Homo sapiens: one gene and its partners. The protein of the gene in region 1 interacts with the protein of each later gene in a pairwise test. Each region holds a gene or a part of one and is shown in the gene's direction. Other genes may lie near its edges.

Region 1 (5,185 bases):
TAAACCTATCAGAAAATGGTCTAGGTTATCCACAGTGAGGTTCATTCTGATCACAGACAGCTACAGGAGCCAATCTGCTTTCCCAGTTGAGAAATGTGAAAACCAGGGAGGCTGAACTTTTTTAAACTAAATAAAATTCCGCTTGCAGAATGCCCTCATACCCTTGCTATCTGGAAGATTGAGCGTATCCTTACAAAGTTAATGACATGTGCTTATTGCAAAGTTAATGGCATAGAACTGCATCTTCTATTTATCTAGCTCTTTAAGTTTTAAAGAATTCTAACCAACTTTATATACCATGCAAATTGTGTTTCTCTCTCTACATACACCCACACATATATATATAATGTAGTTAGCCTGACTTGTTTTTTATTTTCTCTATCTGTACGGTTGTGAAAGTAACCTAAGACATAAGGAATTGATATCTGGAGAGCATTTTGATATACTTGGATGAAGTACTTTTGGTGTATTTGGAAGTAGCTATCATGATCTGTTTACTTAAATTCATGGCTGCAATCATCACCTCTTCTCTAGTGTGCATTCTACTTGCTCACTTCTTTTTGAATACATCTTATAATTCTTGCATTAGTGAAATCTACTCTTCTTGATAATAATACCTTATGGTTCTTTGGCACTGTTGGTTTTAAAAATATTTTTGCATTCATTATCTCATTTAATCCTCACAACAGTGTTGTGAACTAAGCAGGGCACATATTATTTCTATTTTACAGGTATATTTCATTGACTTTTCAATGTTGGAAGGTGCCTTTAAGATCATGGAGCCCGACTCCCTCTTTTTCACTCGTGAAAAGTCTGGGTCTCAAAGAGGATAAGAGAGCTGTCTGGTTTCAAAGTGCCCATCAGTGACAAAATCAGGATGAGAATTCTTGTGACCTTTCAGTCTGTAATGCTGGTGCAACCCTCACTTAAGCAAATTGCCTATTCTACTTGACTTAGATCTGTCCTAACCACCTGCAGCCAGGAACACCTGAAGGAGCTGGTTAGAAATGCAGATTCCTGGGCCACACCCCAGTCTGAGTAAATCAGACTCACAATGGGAGGCTCAGAAATCTGCATTTAAAACTCACTGGAGTTATTTTTCTGTACTGGGATGTGTGAAAGCTACCAGCTCATTGGAGTTAAGCTCTGTGGATCTGAGCCCCGTTTTATGCTGTGGTCTTGAGGTCTATGGCCACCATCATGAATTCCTCAGGGTCCTTGACTGGCTTTATCACCACATGTTGAACGCTCATTGCTCAGTGATATGTCTGGGATGGGTTTTCTTTCTTTCCAAAATTATTAGTTAGACTCTGCTTTGAGTCTAGCATTGCATTAGAAGCTGGGGTGAATGTTTAAGGGGCTGCTAGCAGAAAAGACTCAAGGGTGGCTAAGAGTGAAGGATATGCCCAGATGGGCAAGAGAGAAGGCTGGGCTGACCAACGGCACCGCCATTTTGGACACAGCAATTTGGGTGGCTGTTTGGATGATTCATGCTGCTTCTCTGCTCATGCTAAGTGTGAGTACACATCTGTGGGTGGTGGCCCTTGAGAACAGTGTTTGTTCCTCCTTTAGGGTGACAGAATGTGCCAGAGCCCATGCTTAGTGCTTTTGTACATTGCCTTTTTTAATCCTAAAAATGTCTCTATGAGGCAAGGAGTAAATGCAATTATCCCAATTTGAAAATGTGGAAATTAAAGCTCAAATAACTTGCTCAAATTCTTGTTAATTGGTAAGTAGTGAGGCAAAGACTCAAAATATTTGGTTGACTCTAAAATGAATGCCTTTGACCACCATAATATATAACTGTTTCTTATTATTCACGGATTCCATATTTGTGAATTTGCCTACTTGCTAAAATGTGTATCCACCAAATCAATACTTGTAGCACTTTTATGGTAATTCTCAGACATGCACGGAGAGGTGAAAATTTGAGTTGTGTGAAGTTGAGTCCCCAGCCAAGGAGCCTTCTTGTTTCAGCTCTCAGGCTAGAAAATAGTGTCCATTGCGCAGTCTATCTAGTGCCACTTTTTTTGTTTTGCCTTCTTGTGCATTTTGTTGGTGATTTTGCTGTTAAAAATGGCTTCTGTACCATTCCAAGTCAAGTGCTGTCTAGTATTCCCAATCACAAGAAGGCTATGCTGTGCCACATGGAGAAAACACATGTGTTAGAGAAGTTTTGTTTGGGCATGCGTGACAGTGCTGCTGACGTGAATTTGATGTTAATGAATCAACAATACGCACTAAATGAGGTTATGTATTGCTTGGTTGACAAAACTGTGACCACAGGCTCACAGGAACATAGCCCTCTATTTCCTGTAGGAGCAATGGTTCTATATTTGCTAATTCAGTATTGGAACTGACTTCATAGAACAGAACTCACTGGAATGACAAGGATAGGCCACATTTCCTTGTGAGGACCCCAAGAAGCAAAAGCGCCCACTGTGGCCAGGCCAGACAATCAGACGGGGCTTATTTGGGGATGTCCTGGCCCCTTTGTCAGCCAGCCCCAAGTGTGTCAGTCCCATCGTTAACGCTGGGCTTTCCCATTCTCTCCCGCAGAGGGGCACAGCCGAACCCTTCCCGAGGCTCCACAACTTGTACAGCACCCCTCGCTGCGCGCAGCAGGCCGCCCTGCCCCGGCTGAGCCGCAGGATGGCGAGCCAGCACTCCTATCCACTGAACCGCTTCTCCTCCGTGCCTTTAGACCCCATGGAGCGCCCCATGTCCCAGGCCGACCTGGAGCTGGACTACAACCCGCCGCGGGTGCAGCTCAGCGACGAGATGTTCGTGTTCCAGGACGGGCGCTGGGTAAATGAGAACTGCCGCCTGCAGTCTCCCTACTTCTCCCCATCCGCCTCCTTCCACCACAAGCTGCACCACAAGAGGCTGGCCAAGGAGTGCATGCTGCAGGAGGAGAACAAGTCTCTGCGGGAGGAGAACAAGGCCCTGCGCGAGGAGAACCGGATGCTCAGCAAGGAGAACAAGATCCTACAGGTCTTCTGGGAGGAGCACAAGGCCTCGCTGGGCCGAGAGGAGAGCCGGGCCCCCTCGCCACTGCTGCACAAAGACAGCGCGTCCCTGGAGGTGGTGAAGAAGGACCACGTCGCCCTGCAGGTGCCCCGTGGCAAGGAGGACAGCACCCTGCAGCTCCTCCGGGAGGAGAATCGCGCGCTGCAGCAGCTGCTGGAGCAGAAACAGGCCTACTGGGCGCAGGCAGAGGACACGGCCGCCCCTGCCGAGGAAAGCAAGCCCGCCCCCTCACCCCACGAGGAGCCCTGCAGCCCCGGGCTGCTGCAGGACCAGGGCTCCGGCCTCTCCTCCCGCTTCGAGGAGCCCAAAGGGCCTCCGGCCCGGCAGGAGGACTCCAAGGAGCTGCGCGCCCTGCGGAAGATGGTCAGCAACATGTCCGGGCCCTCCGGGGAGGAGGAGGCCAAGGTGGGCCCGGGCCTGCCCGACGGCTGCCAGCCCCTGCAGCTGCTGAGAGAGATGAGGCAGGCGCTGCAGGCCCTGCTCAAGGAGAACCGGCTCCTGCAGGAGGAGAACAGGACCCTGCAGGTGCTACGGGCAGAGCACAGGGGCTTCCAGGAGGAGAACAAGGCCCTGTGGGAGAACAACAAGCTGAAGCTGCAGCAGAAGCTGGTCATTGACACCGTGACCGAGGTCACCGCGCGCATGGAAATGCTCATCGAGGAGCTCTACGCCTTCATGCCGGCCAGGAGCCAGGACCCCAAGAAGCCTAGCAGGGTCTGAGGCCTCGGCCTTGCACCGGGACGCCGAGTTTGGGACACCGAACACTGGGCAAAAGAGAATCCCCTGCCTTCCTTTGTCGTCCTCGCCTTCCCCAGCCAGTTCGTACCTATTGAAAAGCAGCGTTAGCAGCCTTCCTAAACTCAGAGTTTTAATAAAGGTGTGAGGAGGCTGGGGCCAGTTGACACCAGCATGCTGCCTTTTTCTTTCTTTCTTTCTTTCTTTCTTTTAATAAAAGATAGACAATATTTTAGAGCAGTTTTGGGTTCACAGCTAAACTGAGCAGAAAGTACAGGGAGTTCCCATAGACTCCCGTCCCACAAATGCATAATCTCCCGCATTATCACCATCCCTCCAGAGAGGTACACTAGTGACAGTCTTTGAACCTACATTGACACATAATTATTCCAAAGTCCGTAAGTTTGTATTAGGGTTTGCTGCTGGTGTTGTACATTCTGTGGGTTTGATCAAATGCATAGTGACATGTAGCCACCATTGTAGTACCATATAGAGTATTATAGAGTATATGTAGTACCATATAGAGTATTTTCATTGCGCTAAAAATCCTCTGTGCTCTGCCTGTTCATCCCTCCCTCCCCCTCCAGCCTCTGGCCACCACTGATCTTTTTTACAGTCTTCATAGTTTTGCTTTTTTCAGAATGTCATATAGTTGGAATCGCCAAGTGTGGAGCCTTTTCAGGTTGGCTTCTTTCACTTGGATATGCATTTAAGTTTCCTCCATGTCTTTTCATAGATTCAGAGACTGCTCATTTCTTTTTAGCACTGAATAAAATTCCATTGTCTGGATAGATCACAGTTTATCCTTTCATCTACTAAAGAACATCTTGGTTGCTCTCAAGACAATTATGAATCTGGCTTCTTCTCTCTTTTCCCCTGGTCTCTTCTTTACCTCTGCCTTCATTATTGTCTCTGTTTTTCTCCTTCAGTTCTTCCTTTTTTTCCTTAGTTTTTTCTTCCTCCTCTTCTCTTTCTCCTATCCTTCTTGCTCCCTCATCATCTCCAATTTCTGAGGCTATGGGGGTGGGGGTAGGTCTATGGGGGAAGAGATCACCCTAAGCCAGGGCTTTTCGATTGTGCCTTTATTATTCGGGGCTGGATAAGTCTGTGCTGGGGTCTGTCCTGTGCATTGCACAATGTTTACCAGCATCCCTGGCCTCTACCCACTCAATGCCAGTAACAGCCACCTGGCTCCCAGCTGTGACAACCAAGTATGTCTCCAGACATTGCTGAATGTCCCCTGGGGGACAAATTTCAACACTACTATAGGTTTCTCCAAGTACCATTGATTGAAACACAAGTCCTAGAAATACACTGAGAAAAATAAAGGTTTGCATGAGGAAATGCTGCTAGAATCCCCTCGGGCAGATTCATAATCATACTCTGACTTAAAGGTCCTAACAAGTCCTACAGTGAAGTA
Region 2 (9,445 bases), on another chromosome or scaffold:
CCTCCCAAAGCACTGGGATTACAGGTGAGAGCCGCGGCAACCGGCTGTGAATTATCGCTTGATTAATGAGTTGCTTTCACCAAAAATCTCAACTCCACACACACCTGTAGGATTCAGGCCACAACTACATCTAGGAAGAGCTGGGGGAGCCTGCAAGCTTAGGCTGAGTTGGGTCTTGAATGCCAGAGTAAGGAATCTGGATTTTCTTCGATACCAGCGGAGACCCCTCACAGGTGTTGAGTATCACAGCCAGGTACCTGTTTGCCCCCTAGATATCCAAATGTTGAGTGTTACAGATGCACAGCCTAGGTTCTCATGTTGAGCTGGAGGACAGTTGCGTTTTGCCTTGACTGCTGCTAACCCTTTGTGTAAGCAGGGGCAAGGGGGCTGGGACCCTCTGGGAAGATACTTCTTTTGGTTTTGCCACTAGTAGAGAAGTGGACTGGAACTTTCCCAGCAGGGCCAATACACCACAAAATTCCAGGTGGCGCCATTCACATGGTGGCCATTATGAATGGCACCACCTAGGGTTGTGCAGTCTACAGACTGAACAGCTGTGCGTGACCTTTGTGCTTCCCAGGATGAATGAGGTCTCTTCTGAACACTGGGCAGTGCTTAATACAGTTTTGACACTCAGCATAATGCAAAACGGTAAGAGAAATCTGTAAAGGGAAGATGGCTAAATCATTCAGAAAGTAAATTTACAGCTTTGTGTTTTCCCCAGATTTATTTACCAAGTGGGCAGCTGCATGTTATCAAACAGACAGGAAGTAGAAATGTCAAGTGTATGGGCTTTGCAGTGCTGTTCCTACTGCGACATTTGAGCCAAGAACCATGGGACTTGCCTCTGTGGACTGGCATGTGGCAGATGAGCTGGCCCTTTGTGTGTGCTCTGCGTGTGATCTTGGGGATACATTAATTGTCACATATGCTCATGTCCTGTGGGCCCCCAACTTTTCTTGGCTGGGCTGGGCTGGTGAAGATTAGGAAAACTGCACAATCTGACTGGTGCTTTTTGAAGCAATGCCAGAAAGACCCTCATTGAAGAGTGAATTAAAGTCAAGTTGGTTGATTGTTTGTCGAACAAGCACATATTGAATGCCTACAATGTGCAGAGCTCTTACAGCCCTCTCAGAGATGCCCCACTTGGCGATTGGGAGTGTGTGCCATTTAGAGTTTAGCATTACTGGCTTAGCTGGGGTTCTGCCTTTTAACAGTGGTGCAAATTAGTTATTCATCCTTCTCCCAACCTGTATTAGTTTGTTTTCTGTTGTGATAAAGGGATACCCAAGACTGGGTAAGGTTCAAGTGATTCTCCTTTTTTTTTTTTTGAGACGGAGTCTAGCTCTGTCGCCCAGGCTGGAGTGCAGTGGTGCAATCTCGCTCACTGCAAGCTCTGCCTCCCGGGTTCATGCCATTCTCTTGCCTCAGCCTCCCGAGTAGCTGGGACTACAGGCGTCCGCCACCACGCCCGGCTAATTTTTTGTATTTTTTTTAGTAGAGATGGGGTTTCACCGTGTTAGCTAGGATGGTCTCGATGTCCTGACCTCGTGATCCACCCGCCTCAGCCTCCCAAAATGCTGGGATTACAGACGTGAGCCACCGTGCCCGCCCAGTTTCAAGTGATTCTCATGCCTCAGCCTCCCAAGTAGCTGGGACTGCAAGTGCATGCCACCACGTCAGGTTAATTTTTGTACTTTTAATAGAGATGGGGTTTCGCCATGTCGGCCGGGTTGGTCTCGAACCCCTGACCTCAAGTGATCCACCCACCTCAGCCTCCCAAAGTCCTGGGATTACAGGCATGAGCCACCATGCCTAGCTCCTGATAACACTTTTGAAGAACATCAGATCAGTCTCATCTCATGCACAGGATGCGTCTGAAGACCTCACAGCATTCAAAACTTGCATTTTTCAAGACGAGTTTTCCCATAGGCTTTAATGTCAAGTTGGGGGGTATGCAGCCTCGGAAGGCATAAATCTACAGCCATTATGGCTTAGGGGCATGTTATTAGCAGCATCAGTCTCAAAACGACGTCACCAGCTGTTTTTCTACCTCCTTTCCCATCCCTCCAGCATCCTTACCTAGCTTTATGAGTATTGGGGGGGATCTTAAAGCCACCCCAGTTGTAATAATATCAACTAAGCTGGGCATGGAGGCATGCATCTATAGTCCCAGCTACTCAAGAGGCTGAGGGCGGGAGGATCACTTTGAGCCCAGGAGTTCGAGTCCAGCCTGGGCAACATAGTGAGACCCTGTTTCTTAAAAAAAAAAACAATGAATTGATCGATCAATCAATAAAAAATGTTTCAAGATGTATTGAGCAGCTGTTTACTACGCAACCAAGCACTGTTCTAAGCATTTTATTTATTTTTGAGACAGGGTCTCTTGCTGTGTCACCCAGGCTGGAGTACAGTGGCACAATCATAGCCCACTGCAGCCTCAAACTCCTGGGCTCAAGCAGTCCTCCCGCCTTAGCCTCCCAAGTAACTATGACTACAAACACAGACCACCATGCCCAGCTAATTTAAAAAATTTTTTTGTAGAAACAGAGTTCTGCCATGTTGCCCAGGCTGATCTCAAACTTTCGAGCTCAAGTGATCCTCCTGCCTTAGCTTCCCAAAGTTTACATTCTTCACAAAGTTTACAGCTGTGGGCCACCATGCCCAGCCAACTTTCAGTAGAGATGGGTCCTGCTGTGTTGCCCAGGCTGGTCTCAAACTCCTGGCCTCAAGGGATCCTCCTGCCTTGGCCTCCCAAAATGCTGGGATTATATGTGTGAGCCACCATGCTCGGCCTCTACGCATTTTATATGTGTTAACTCATTCAGTGTTTACAACCACCGTATAATGTGGGTACTGTCAATATTTCCACTTTACAGATGGGGAAATGGAGGTACGGGAGGGGAAAGGGACTTGCCCCAGCACCCAGCCAGGGTTCAGCCCCAGCGGTTCTCTCAATGACTACCCTGTATCGTCTTCCTTCTCCATCCACCCCTACATCCTCCTTCCCAATTTCTCAGCAGTTCTTTATTGGGAGCACATTGAGTCACGGCTGCTGCTAATTTATAGCTATTTCTTTACATCAAACTTCTGTTCAGAAATTGTTGATTTTCAGGGCCATTTCTGCCGCGCAAAGAACCCTTGAGTGACATTGTTATAGGATATTTTTAAAAGATCTTAAATTATAGACACAGTGACTGTTGAAATACCAGGACACTTGTAACCAAAAGCAGAAGTTCGGATGCCTATAAAACAACCAGACGGTTCACTCCAGGCTGGAGATTGACAGGTCTCGGGCTTCACTGAGCCAAAGTGGCGCCCCCACGTGGCGACAGCTTAACTTTACACAGCTCTCCACCCAACCCCAGCTTTGAAATTATGCAAGTTCTTGACAGATTGTTCTAAATTGGGGAATATTTCTTCATATCATTTCACATTTTGTGCAAAAAGCAAGACGTTGTTGAGAGTTTAAGGACACCACACTGTCAAATTTGCATTATTCCATGTTGCATAAAATGAGTCTGAGAGCGGTTTCATCGTGGGTCTTAACCCCCAAGGGACAGAGATGCCAGTCCCCGGGGATTCCTGGACAGCTACTGAGACCTCTTCCCTTCCTATAGGATGGCCAGCCGGAGCAGTGACAAGGATGGTGACTCTGTCCACACGGCCAGCGAAGTCCCGCTGACCCCACGGACCAATTCCCCGGATGGAAGACGCTCGTCCTCAGACACATCCAAGTCTACATACAGCCTGACGCGGAGGATTTCGAGTAAGTATCTCTGCTTTACCTTTCTGGGGGCCCTGGCTGGCTTTCCCAGACACTCTCCCACGGAGAGTCATGAAGGGCAGTGTTATTGCTGGGGGAGGGCGGCAGAGTGGGATGACAGTCCAGGAGACAGGGCGAGAGAGAGATAATGACGGTGTGACAGAGGAGGGCATCACACCTGATTGCTGCTGAGTTTAATCAAAAGCAATCATTTTGATTGATTTTTGCTTTATTAATTTTAAGTTTGATTGAATTGGCTGAATTGATTAACATTGTCAGTGTATATCATTTCAGATTCTGAAAGATGAGTGTGGCTATATTATATAGCAGGGTTTGTCAATTCTGGTGACTTTGGGAGCTAGGCGGGTTGCATCAGTGGCCAAGTGCAGAGGTTGCATAGAGATAAACATTGCCTGAGTGCAGTGACAAATGGCAGCTGCCGCTCTGTCTGGAGAGTTACTAGGGCAGGGTGGGGACTTCGGTCAATTGAAAAGCAAATGCCCCATTGAAAGGGGGCCAGGGTGTCTGCTACTCAGCTCTGGCCAATGGTAGCTGTATGGGATTGGGGGCTCCGTATTGTCTGATCTTTGTAAAGAGATATTGGCAATCTGGGTTTTTTTATGTGAAACATTCTTACTTTCAAGCCTAAACAAAATGTATGTGTGGCCATCAAATTTGACCACCCAATTTGTCCACTCTGTTGTGTGGCGTATGTGTTTGACCAAACAGCATGATTTGGGTGAGGAGGAAAAAGGAGGACAAACACCCAGAGGCTCCCAACCTCCTTCTGCTCCACAAAAGTATCTCTGCTCTGTGTGAACCGATGTCTGAAATTCACCAGACAGAGGGAAAAGCTTCAAATGCATGAAACAAATCCATTCAGGTGGAGATCATTGGTGTCCAACCTTTCCTGGGGATAGAGGGAAAAGAAAAAAGTAGAAAAAAAAAGAGTTCAAGGGCATGAAATAGTGAAACAGAGGGAGCACTGGATTTCTTTAGGCCTCAGTCTTCCCATTTGTAAAATGAGAGGGCTGGTCTAGAGCTGCGCTGTCTGGTATAACAATCACTAGACACACGTAGCTGTTGAGCACGTAAATGGTGTGAGACTGAATCTTACTGATGTTCTGTAAGTGCAAAATACATACTGGACTTTCAGGACAGTGAGGAAAAAAAAAAAAAAAGTCTGGGCGCGGTGGCTCATGCCTGTAATCCCAGCACTTTGGGAGGCCGAGGCGGGAGGATCACCTGAGGTCAGGACTTCGAGACCAGCCTGGCTAACATGGTGAAACCCCATCTCTACTAAAAATACAAAATTAGACGGGCATGGTAGCGCATGCCTGTAATCCCAGCTACCTGGGAGGCTGAGGCAGGAGAATCGGTTGAACCCGGGAGGTGGAGGTTGCAGTGAGCCGAGATTGCACCACTACACTCCAGCTCAGGCAACAAAAATGAAACTCTGTCTCAAAAAAAAAAAAAAAAAGAGAGAGAGGATTTAAAGTATCTCACTAAAATATTTTTATATTGGTTCCATGTTGAAATGAGTATACATTGGATATAGTGGGTTAAATAAAATAAAATATTAAAATTAATTTTGCAGGCTGGGCGCGGTGGCTCACGCCTGTAATCCCAGCACTTTGGGAGGCCGAGGCAGGCAGATAGCTTGAGGCCAGGAGTTCAAGACCATCCTGGCCAACATGATGAAATTCCATCTCTATTAAAAATGCAAAAATGGGCCAGGTGTGGTGGTATACAACTGTAGTCCCAGCTACTTGAGAGGCTGAGCCATGAGATTCACTTGCACCTGGAAGGTGGAGGTTGCAGTGAGCCGAGATCCGCCACTGCACTCCAGCCTGGACGATAGAGCAAGACTCTGTCTCAAAATAAATAAATAAAATTAAATGAATTTTGCCCTTTTATTTGCATATTTTAAAAGTCGTGGCTGCCAGAACATTTTAAGTTACATGTGTGGCTTGCATTTCTGGCTTGCGTTATCTTTCTATGGACAGTGTGGGCCTAGGTAATTTCTAAGTCTCATGCCCAGCTCTGAACACAGGTTATCTCCATTTAGCATACATCTATCAGAGTACCTCCCATGCCTCTGGCAAATGTCTCATAAAGACAACTGTTTGGGCAATTAGCAAGAATGCCATGAGCTCATTGCTAGAAGAGAGGGATGTGCAAAGGTTGGAATAATGAACTTGGGATCAATGCATTCTGCTGGTTCATGGAAGGGAGAGAGGCGGCCCGTAAGCGGTGAGGTTTGAATATGAACCTTGAAGAAGTACAGTCGTTCCCATTTATTGGTCTGTGCCTACGGGCACATTCTGTGCCATGCTCTTTTCATGCCCTGGCTCAGTGAATCTTCACCACATTCTTTGAGGTAGGTGCCGTTATTGACTCTATTTTACTGATGGGAAAACAGAGTCCCAGAGAGTCAAAAGAATATGCCCGGAGTCACATGGCTCACTGGTAATGAGTACACGAGTAGTGAGTAAGTGGCTGAGATGGAATTCCACCCAGGCACTCTGGTCCCAGAGCTCACTCTCTTAAAGTGGAGACATCGTAGGATAATGGTTAGAGCCAGACTCTGGGGTCAGCTAGACCAGCCTGACCCCTGGCTCCTACACTTGCAAGTGTGTGACCTTCAGAAAGTTACTTAAAGCTTCTGTTTCCTCGTCTATAAAGTGGGGATAATAGTAATTATCTAATAATTCAAGGGGATGTGAAGATTGTGATTGCACATATGCGATGATGTAGTGTACACAGTCCATTAGAGCAGTGCCTGGCACTTAGCTGCTGTGATGATGGCAAGGTGTCAATAGTGCCACCAAACTATCTGTCACAGAATCAGTGAGTATTTCAGAGTGTGGAGAAAGATGGCAAAGGTCATTCTGAAGCAGAGTAAACAATGCAAGAATCTGCTTACCTGCAAAGTGGCCCAGGTCTGCCCCGTATGTGGCTGTCTTCATTGTTATTTCTGGTGGCTCTCAGGTCTTGAGTCAAGACGTCCCAGCTCTCCACTCATCGATATTAAACCCATCGAGTTTGGCGTTCTCAGCGCCAAGAAGGAGCCCATCCAACCTTCGGTGCTCAGACGGACCTATAACCCCGACGACTATTTCAGGAAGTTCGAACCCCACCTGTACTCCCTCGACTCCAACAGCGACGATGTGGACTCTCTGACAGACGAGGAGATCCTGTCCAAGTACCAGCTGGGCATGCTGCACTTCAGCACTCAGTACGACCTGCTGCACAACCACCTCACCGTGCGCGTGATCGAGGCCAGGGACCTGCCACCTCCCATCTCCCACGATGGCTCGCGCCAGGACATGGCGCACTCCAACCCCTACGTCAAGATCTGTCTCCTGCCAGACCAGAAGAACTCAAAGCAGACCGGGGTCAAACGCAAGACCCAGAAGCCCGTGTTTGAGGAGCGCTACACCTTCGAGATCCCCTTCCTGGAGGCCCAGAGGAGGACCCTGCTCCTGACCGTGGTGGATTTTGATAAGTTCTCCCGCCACTGTGTCATTGGGAAAGTTTCTGTGCCTTTGTGTGAAGTTGACCTGGTCAAGGGCGGGCACTGGTGGAAGGCGCTGATTCCCAGTTCTCAGGTAAGGGATGGGTTTGTGGTGTTTCCTCCTGGGAGCTTTTTTAAAAAGTGATTATTTTTATTTTATTTTACTGTTTAAAAGGCTTTTTTGGATTTTTAAAACTTTTTATTTTGAAATAATTTTTGACTCACAAGAGGTTGCAAAAATAGCAGAGAGTTCCTGTGTCCTCTTGATCCAGCATGATAGCATCTTACGCAACCAGGAAATAGATGTTGGTAACTAACCTAGAGCTTACTCAGATTTCAGTAGTTTTTTTTTTTTTTTGAGACGCTCTGTCACCCAGGCTGGAGCGCCGTGGCGTGATCTTGGCTCACTGCAAACTCCACCTCCCAGGTTCACGCCATTCTCCTGCCTCAGCCTCCTGAGTAGCTGGGACTATAGGCGCCCGCCACCACGCCCTGCTAATTTTTTTGTATTTTTTTTTTTTTTAGTAGAGATGAGGTTTTCCGTGTTATCCAGGATGGTCTCGATCTCCTGACCTCAAGATTTCACTACTTTTTACATGCATCACTCATGTGTGTGTCTTTCTGTGAAAATTTATCACATGTATAGATTCCTGTAACCACCACCACTCTGGAAGCCTTTTTTAAATCATCGATGCTGAGTTATTTAATAAGGAGAATGATTGCACAGGGTATAAAGCTATCAATCATTTTGACTTTCAGAAATTGATTTTTTTGGGGAAAAAGTGAAGGCTGGAAAACAGGATGATGCATGGATGTTTTTCAGGCCAACTGTTAGATTGGCTTCCTTCCCCCTGTCCAGCCCAGGGAAATGTGGTTGGCTGCTCGGGAAGCCACCCACGGACCAGGCTGTGTCTCCAGTCGGCTGTTGTGCATTCCTGCATATTAGAGGGTAACTGTCTACCCATTGTAGGTAGAAGGATGTGGGGAGCCCAAGGAAAGGAAAAGACCCAGCCACTCCTTCCTCCTTCCCTCCCTTCCCGCTTCTCTCTTCACTCCCTCCCTCCCTTCCTTCCCTGCTACCCTCTTCCCTCCCTTTCTCCCTCCTTCCCCTCCTTCCTCCCTCCCCTCCTCCCCTCTTCCCTTCCTTCTCTCCCTGTCCTGTGGGATGGCTGTTGTAGGAACAGGGACGGGAGATGGAGAAACAGGGGAGGGGGCTTTGGCCACCATGAGGTCAATAAGAGCTGCCTTCCAGGCCAGGCGCAGTGGCTTACGCCTGTAATCCCAGCACTTTGGGAGGCTGAGGCAGGAGAATCACTTGAGTCTAGGCGTTCAAGACCAGCCTGGGCAACACAGTGAGACCCCGTCTCTACAAAAAACAATTTAAAAATTAGCTAGGCATGGTAGTGCACATCTGTAATTCTAGCTACTTGGGAGGCTGAGGCAGGAGGATCTCTTGAGCCCAGAGTTTGAGGCTGCAGTGAGCTATGATCGAGCCACTGCACTCACTCCAGCTCACTCCAGCCTGGTTGACAGAGTGAGACCCTGTCTCTTTAAAAAAAAAAAAAAGTTGCCTTTCCATGGGGAGCCATTTGGTGACGTGCAGAGAAAATGGCCTTGGGTCCAAGCTGCAACCTTCCTCCCAGTGCCTAGCTGTTGCTGGGCCCCTGTGCTCCCTCACCTCACTTCAGGTGAAGTGGAGGTAGTAACACCACCTCGCAGCGAGGGCCTGGCGGGTGGCGAGCACTCCACAGTGGCAGGCCCAGTTGTCAGGAGACGACGTCTTCTATTGTGAACCCATTCAGAGTGAGCCTGTAATGTGTCGCCTTCCAGTGCACTAAGCGGTAATCACACCTGGTGAATATCTAATTGGGCAGACAAGAGGCGGGGAGTGTTCCCGTTCACTCCTGATGCTGAGCCTTCTTGCGGTAGAGGAGCTGGCGTCTCCTCAGCTGAGTTAATCTCGGGGCTGCCATCTCCTTTCCATTTGAAGAGGGACAGCCGGGCCTGTTTCAGGTCACTGCGGGAGCAGGTTTCTCCCAGACAAGGGCTGGCTCCTCACCCTTGATAGAGCTGCAGGCCGTGCCTTAGTTTCATGGGGACCTTTCAGTGCCTCTATGAATTAAAAGTATTCATGTGTATAGGGCTGAGTGCAATGGCTCACA
Region 3 (6,040 bases), on another chromosome or scaffold:
GGACCACAGGCGCCCGCCACCACACCCGGCTAATTTTTTGTATTTTTAGTAGAGATGGGGTTTCACCGCATTAGCCAGGATGGAACATTTTCTAGTCCCTTAAAATAGGTTAGTGATTGTTGGCTCCAGAAGACGAAGTTTAGGCTGAAATGGATATTGTGAATATGATAGACTTAGGAACTAAGTGCAAGGAGGAAGAGGTCCCTCTTTAGCCTCCTTTTTATATTGCAGGGTTATTGGCTATAATTATTCCACCTCGGCTTTGTCCTAATTTCTCTTTACTGGTTATATAAATCCTAACTTTCCTTTGAAATTGACTTCAAAGGTTTCCTTCTGTCAAGACCAAGTTATTCTTTTGAAACTAAACAGGGTGCTTTTTTTCTTTAGCTGCTGCTTATGCCTTCATATTGATTCCTTGAAGTCTTTATAAGTTTTATTATTGGTGTCTTAAAAAAAATACTTTGCTTTTTAAAGTAAAAGTGTTTCTAAGCTACGTGTGGACAATGAGGATTAGTATTCTGTCTTTGAAGCTTGATCCTCAGACCTTTAATGTGAAGATTTACTTTTTTGCATTGTTATTTCAGGGTTAACCCTTAATTCTAAACACTTAGATCTGAGATAAGATTTTCTAAAAGGGCTGCTAAAAGTTGTGTTTCTTATTTTCGGTATGGTTCATGGAACATTCTATGCCTCCTATTGTTGTGTTGGAATGGTTGGGAAGGAAGGAGGAAGAATAAGCTTTAACAAATACCTCCAAACATAATTTATTTCCTTCCACAGGGTTTCTGATCTCTAACTTGGCTGTGATCATTGTGATGGAGCAAGAAAAAAAACTGTTGGTCTCAGATTCTAACAGCTTTATGGAGAGGGAGAGTTTGAAAAGCCCTTTCACAGGTGAGGGATCAAGACGATGATCTGAATCCTTAGGAAATTTGATGTAGAAAGAACAGGACACTAGAATGAGACAAACCTTAATTTAATTCCTTGTTCTGTCACTTATAAGCTGTGTTAATTATTTCAGCCTCATTGTTCTCATCTTTAAGAAAATGAATAATATCTATTTCACATATATTTTAGAATTAGTGAGATACCGTATCCAAAGCTACTGTTCTTAATAAATAGTGGCTATTGTTATTTCTATAGCATTTGCTCAGATTTTAGCAAAGCTATTGTCTAGTTTTTACCTGAGATGGTATCCTGTTCAATTTAACTTCTATTCACATCAATCCTGTTTTTTCTCTTAAGTCTTCTAGAACAAAACCTAATGCATTTATTTTTAGATTGATGTTCCCTTTGCCAATAATGATTCAAATAATTCATTATTGTTGTTGCTAGGTACAAAAAAAAATCCACCTGCTTCTGGTAAACAGAGGAAAAGAAGTAAAACTGTCTTTAAAAACTTTTTTATATGAAATTATTTATGAGGTTTTACAGTGTTATTTCCTCTCTTCCACTGCAATTTAGAATTTACTTCTCTGGCAGAGATTTGGAATATGGTTAGAATATTTGTTTATTCTTGCAGGAGATACAAGTATGAATAATTTGGAAACTGTTCACCACAATAATTCTAAGGCAGATAAACTTAAAGAGAAACCTTCAGAATGGTCTAAAAGACATAGACCACAACATTATAAGCATGAGGATGCAAAAGAAATGCCACTGACATGGGTTCAAGATGAGATTTGGTGTCATGATTCCTATGAGAGTGATGGCAAGTCAGAGAATTGGGGAAATTTTATAGCTAAAGAGGAGGAAAAACCCAATCACCAGGAATGGGACTCAGGAGAACATACCAATGCCTGTGTCCAGCAGAATTCATCCTTTGTAGACAGACCCTATAAATGTTCCGAATGTTGGAAAAGCTTCAGTAATAGTTCTCATTTGCGTACTCACCAGAGGACCCACTCAGGAGAAAAGCCTTATAAATGCTCTGAGTGTGCAAAATGTTTTTGTAACAGTTCTCACCTGATTCAGCATCTAAGAATGCACACAGGAGAGAAGCCCTACCAGTGTGGTGAATGTGGGAAAAGCTTCAGCAATACCTCCCATCTTATTATCCATGAGAGAACTCACACGGGAGAGAAACCCTACAAATGTCCCGAGTGTGGGAAGAGATTCAGCAGCAGCTCTCACCTTATTCAGCATCACAGATCACATACAGGTGAAAAACCATATGAATGTTCTGTCTGCGGAAAAGGCTTCAGTCACAGCTATGTCCTAATAGAACATCAGAGGACTCACACTGGAGAAAAACCTTATAAGTGCCCTGATTGTGGGAAGAGTTTTAGTCAGAGTTCCAGCCTCATTCGCCACCAGCGGACACACACAGGTGAGAAGCCCTACAAATGTCTTGAGTGTGAAAAAAGCTTTGGTTGTAATTCTACTCTAATAAAACATCAGAGAATACATACAGGAGAAAAGCCTTATCAATGTCCAGAATGTGGGAAGAATTTTAGTCGTAGTTCAAACCTTATTACACACCAGAAAATGCACACAGGAGAGAAATCCTATGAAAGTTCTGAATATGAGGAAAGTTTGGGTCAGAACTGCAATGTGATAGAAGAATGCAGAATCCAGTTAGGAGAGAAACCATATAGATGTTGTGAATGTGGGAAGAGTTTTGGCCTTAGCTCCCATCTCATTAGACATCAGAGAACACATACAGGAGAAAAACCTTACAGATGTTCTGAGTGCTGGAAAACTTTCAGTCAGAGTTCCACCCTGGTGATTCACCAAAGGACACATACAGGAGAGAAACCTTATAAATGTCCTGATTGTGGTGAAAGCTTCAGTCAGAGCTTTAACCTTATCAGGCACCGGAGGACCCACATAGGGGAAAAACCTTACAAATGTACCAGCTGTGAGAAATGCTTCAGCAGAAGTGCCTACCTCAGTCAGCATCGGAAAATTCACGTAGAAAAGCCTTTTGAGTCTCCCGACGTTGGGGATTTTCCTCATGAATGGACTTGGAAAAACTGTTCAGGGGAAATGCCCTTCATCTCTTCATTTTCCGTCTCAAATTCATCTTCCTGAGTCCCAAAGCCTGGTTGGTGATGGTTTTTTCTTCCTTGTTGGACCATGACAATTTAGGTATTCTGTGATTGTTGTGCTATAAAGTTTCTTTGATGTGTTTGTCAAAACATTTGGAAAAAGTCAACCTCCCAGTTTAAAGGATGGGAAGACCCCAATCACCAGGTTATTGGATCTGTCCAGTGAGAGATTCATCCACCAAGGATGAAGAAAGGAGGACTTTTAAAAATTTAAGGTAAGATAGTAATAGCTTCAAAAGAACACATACAGAGTAATCCTGAGAGTAAGCAAAGGAACCATGAGAACCGAAGCTAGAATTGCTATTGAATTACTTTATTTTCTCTTCCCTTATTGGGTAGAGATACATCATTACTGGCCTCAGGGGTTTACCCAAAGAAAGGGTATTTTTGAGCAAATAATGTGATTTCCTGGCTATTTTGTTGGGGGCTTAAGATTTTTTTTTTTCAAATGCATTTTTAGTCACTAAAAATTAACTGTCGTACCATCTAGAACTATACTGTCCAGTACCATAGCCTCTAGCCGTATGTAGCTATTTGTATTAAGATTAATTGAAATTTTAAATCCAGTTCCTCAGTCACACTAGCCACTTTCTAAGTGCTCAGTAGCTCTGTGTGACCAGCGGCTACTGTATTGGATATTATAGAAGGTTCTTTCATTCAAGATCATCATTCTTGACAGACCCATAAATATTTCCTATAAAGACTGTAGAAGTGTGTTCTGGAGGGTTTGCTCTCCAAAAAGAATTGTAATATAGAGTAGAATTGGGATAGAGTATTGAAGACACTGGGTTTAGACATTGGATATTTTAATGATTGTGTGTTCTAATTCATGTGCTGCCAACTGAGTTATCTAGTGATATGACCTCACTGTCTTGACCAAAGCCAGAATAGAAGGCAGGATTCCTGAATTCTATCTTAAAATTTGCAATGAAGAGCCTTTTCCCTAAATTATCCCATTATGTAATTCTTGGTCAGCTCAAGAACTGGGTTCTTTTTCTAATAATTAACTCACTAAATCTGAGCCAGTGTCCAAGGACAGTTTGTCATTAAGGAGTACTGAGACTTCTTAGCTTTGGTACTGACAGTTTTCTTTTGCCTCTTGACATAATTGGTATATGGATCTGATAACTGAGGTCCCATCTTCCCTACTCATTCCTATGGGAATGATGCTTTGGAAATTATTAGATATATCCTATTCCCTTCCTCCCATTTTTTTCCTGCTAGTGCAAAAGGTAGATGAGTAGGAAGATTAGGACTCCTGAGTTGCCCATGATTTCATCTAATTTTTGGATTCAGAATGTATTTTATGAATAATATGCAGAGATGCATATTAGGAATGTGAAGCCAGAATGGGTCAGTTGTAGCTGCTGCAAAGTTCTGTAGCTGATGGTCATTTAATTGCATGGGGGTTATTTTATCTTTCATGATTGTGGTGCACCTGATGCTGGCGGGGTATTTGTGTGTTTTTGTATTGTTATTTGATTACAAAAATAAAGCAAAAACTAACAAATAAAGGTATTGGAGAATTTGGGGGAAATTTTCTGCTTTCAAAAAAGGGGGAAAACATTAGGCATTATTGGCTTTTTATTTTTATTTTTTTCTTATTCATTATTATTATTTTTTTTTTTGAGACGGAGTCTCACTCTGTCGCCCAGGCTGGAGTGCAGTAGTGCGATCTTGGCTCACTGCAAGCTCTGCCTCCCGGGTTCATGCCATTCTCCTGCCTCAGCCTCCCGAGTAGCTGGGACTACAGGTGCCTGCCACCACGCCTAGCTAATTTTTTGTGTTTTTAGTAGAGATGGGGTTTCACCGTGTTAGCCAGGATGGTCTCGATCTCCTGACCTCATGATCCAGCTGCCTTGGCCTCCCAAAGTGTTGGGATTACAGGCGTGAGCCACTGCGCCCGGCCCTTATTAATTGTTTAAGAGATAAGGTCTCACACTGTCACCCAGACTGTAGTGCACTAGCACCATCATAGCTGACTGCACCCTCAGACCCCTGGGCTCAAGGGATCTTCCCATCTCCGCCTCCTGAGTAGCTAGGACTACAAGCACATGCCACTGCAGCCAGCTAATTTTAAAATTTTTATAGAGACAGGGTCTTGCTATGTTGCCCAGGCTGGTCTTGAACTCCTGGCTTCAAGCAGTTCTCCTCCCTCAGCCTCCCAAGCTGCTGAGATTACAGGTGTGAGCCACCACACCTGGCCCATTATTGGCTTTTGTGTGACCTCACCTGAGTATTTTTCTGTCTTTGTATGTTATCTAGTATTGCCCAAATTTTCTTAAATTGTAATATTTCAGGACAAGTTTTTATGGTAACAGTTTGATTAATGCTTGATAACTAAGGAGTTATCAGCTTAGGAGTTGGCTGATAAACTTAGGAGTTTGCTGTTGAGGCTGAAATTCAGTTACAAGGCAGCAGTGGTTGGGGTGATACAAAATCAATGCTCTGTGGTAGGTAACCACTCTGAGCCTCAGTTCCCTCATCTGTAAAGCAGAAATAATGCCTACCTTACAGGGTTACCATAAACATTAAATGAATGTTTGCAAAGCATATAGCACAGTGCTTAAACATAGCAGGGTATCAATAAATGATACTTAGTTGCTGCTATTATTATTAATTGAAACAAACTGAAAAAAAATGTTATCCACATGTTTTAGAAATAGGAAGTAGTAGTACAGCCCCAAACTTATCTTACTTGTAGATTCTTTATGATCAACTTCAGGAATTTTAAGGGATAAAATATTGGAAAAGCACAGGACTATATTGTTTGCAGACTGTCTAAAACACTTTTATTCACTTTGTAAGCAGCTATAACAAAGAAACAGGAAATTTTACTAAATTTTCTTTTTATTCATGAAACAAAGGATTTGGTTTAACTTGGGAAAGAACAAAGTCGCAAGTTCAATTGAAGTTAATTTGCATCTGAAGAGATTAATAACAGGTACAATTTATGTCCTGTCACCATCACCTATACAATGTACTATGAT

Evidence for each region. The genes of interacting proteins can lie anywhere in the genome.
Region 2: the proteins of CBY2 (region 1) and SYT17 interact in binary tests that used the Homo sapiens proteins (3 or more experiments, as listed by UniProt).
Region 3: the proteins of CBY2 (region 1) and ZNF572 interact in binary tests that used the Homo sapiens proteins (3 or more experiments, as listed by UniProt).

The regions. Positions count from the first base shown.
Region 1 is NC_000013.11:45,710,623-45,715,807, forward strand, and holds the end of CBY2 (protein chibby homolog 2), read left to right. Parts: intron 1-2,559; coding exon 2,560-3,750; 3' UTR 3,751-3,937; downstream 3,938-5,185.
Region 2 is NC_000016.10:19,176,771-19,186,215, forward strand, and holds part of SYT17 (synaptotagmin-17), read left to right. Parts: intron 1-3,620; coding exon 3,621-3,769; intron 3,770-3,977; exon of another isoform or gene 3,978-4,676; intron 4,677-6,692; exon of another isoform or gene 6,693-6,757; coding exon 6,758-7,377; intron 7,378-9,445. UniProt on the Homo sapiens protein: Plays a role in dendrite formation by melanocytes.
Region 3 is NC_000008.11:124,974,826-124,980,865, forward strand, and holds the end of ZNF572 (zinc finger protein 572), read left to right. Parts: intron 1-780; 5' UTR 781-815; coding exon 816-894; intron 895-1,522; coding exon 1,523-3,033; 3' UTR 3,034-4,564; downstream 4,565-6,040. UniProt on the Homo sapiens protein: May be involved in transcriptional regulation.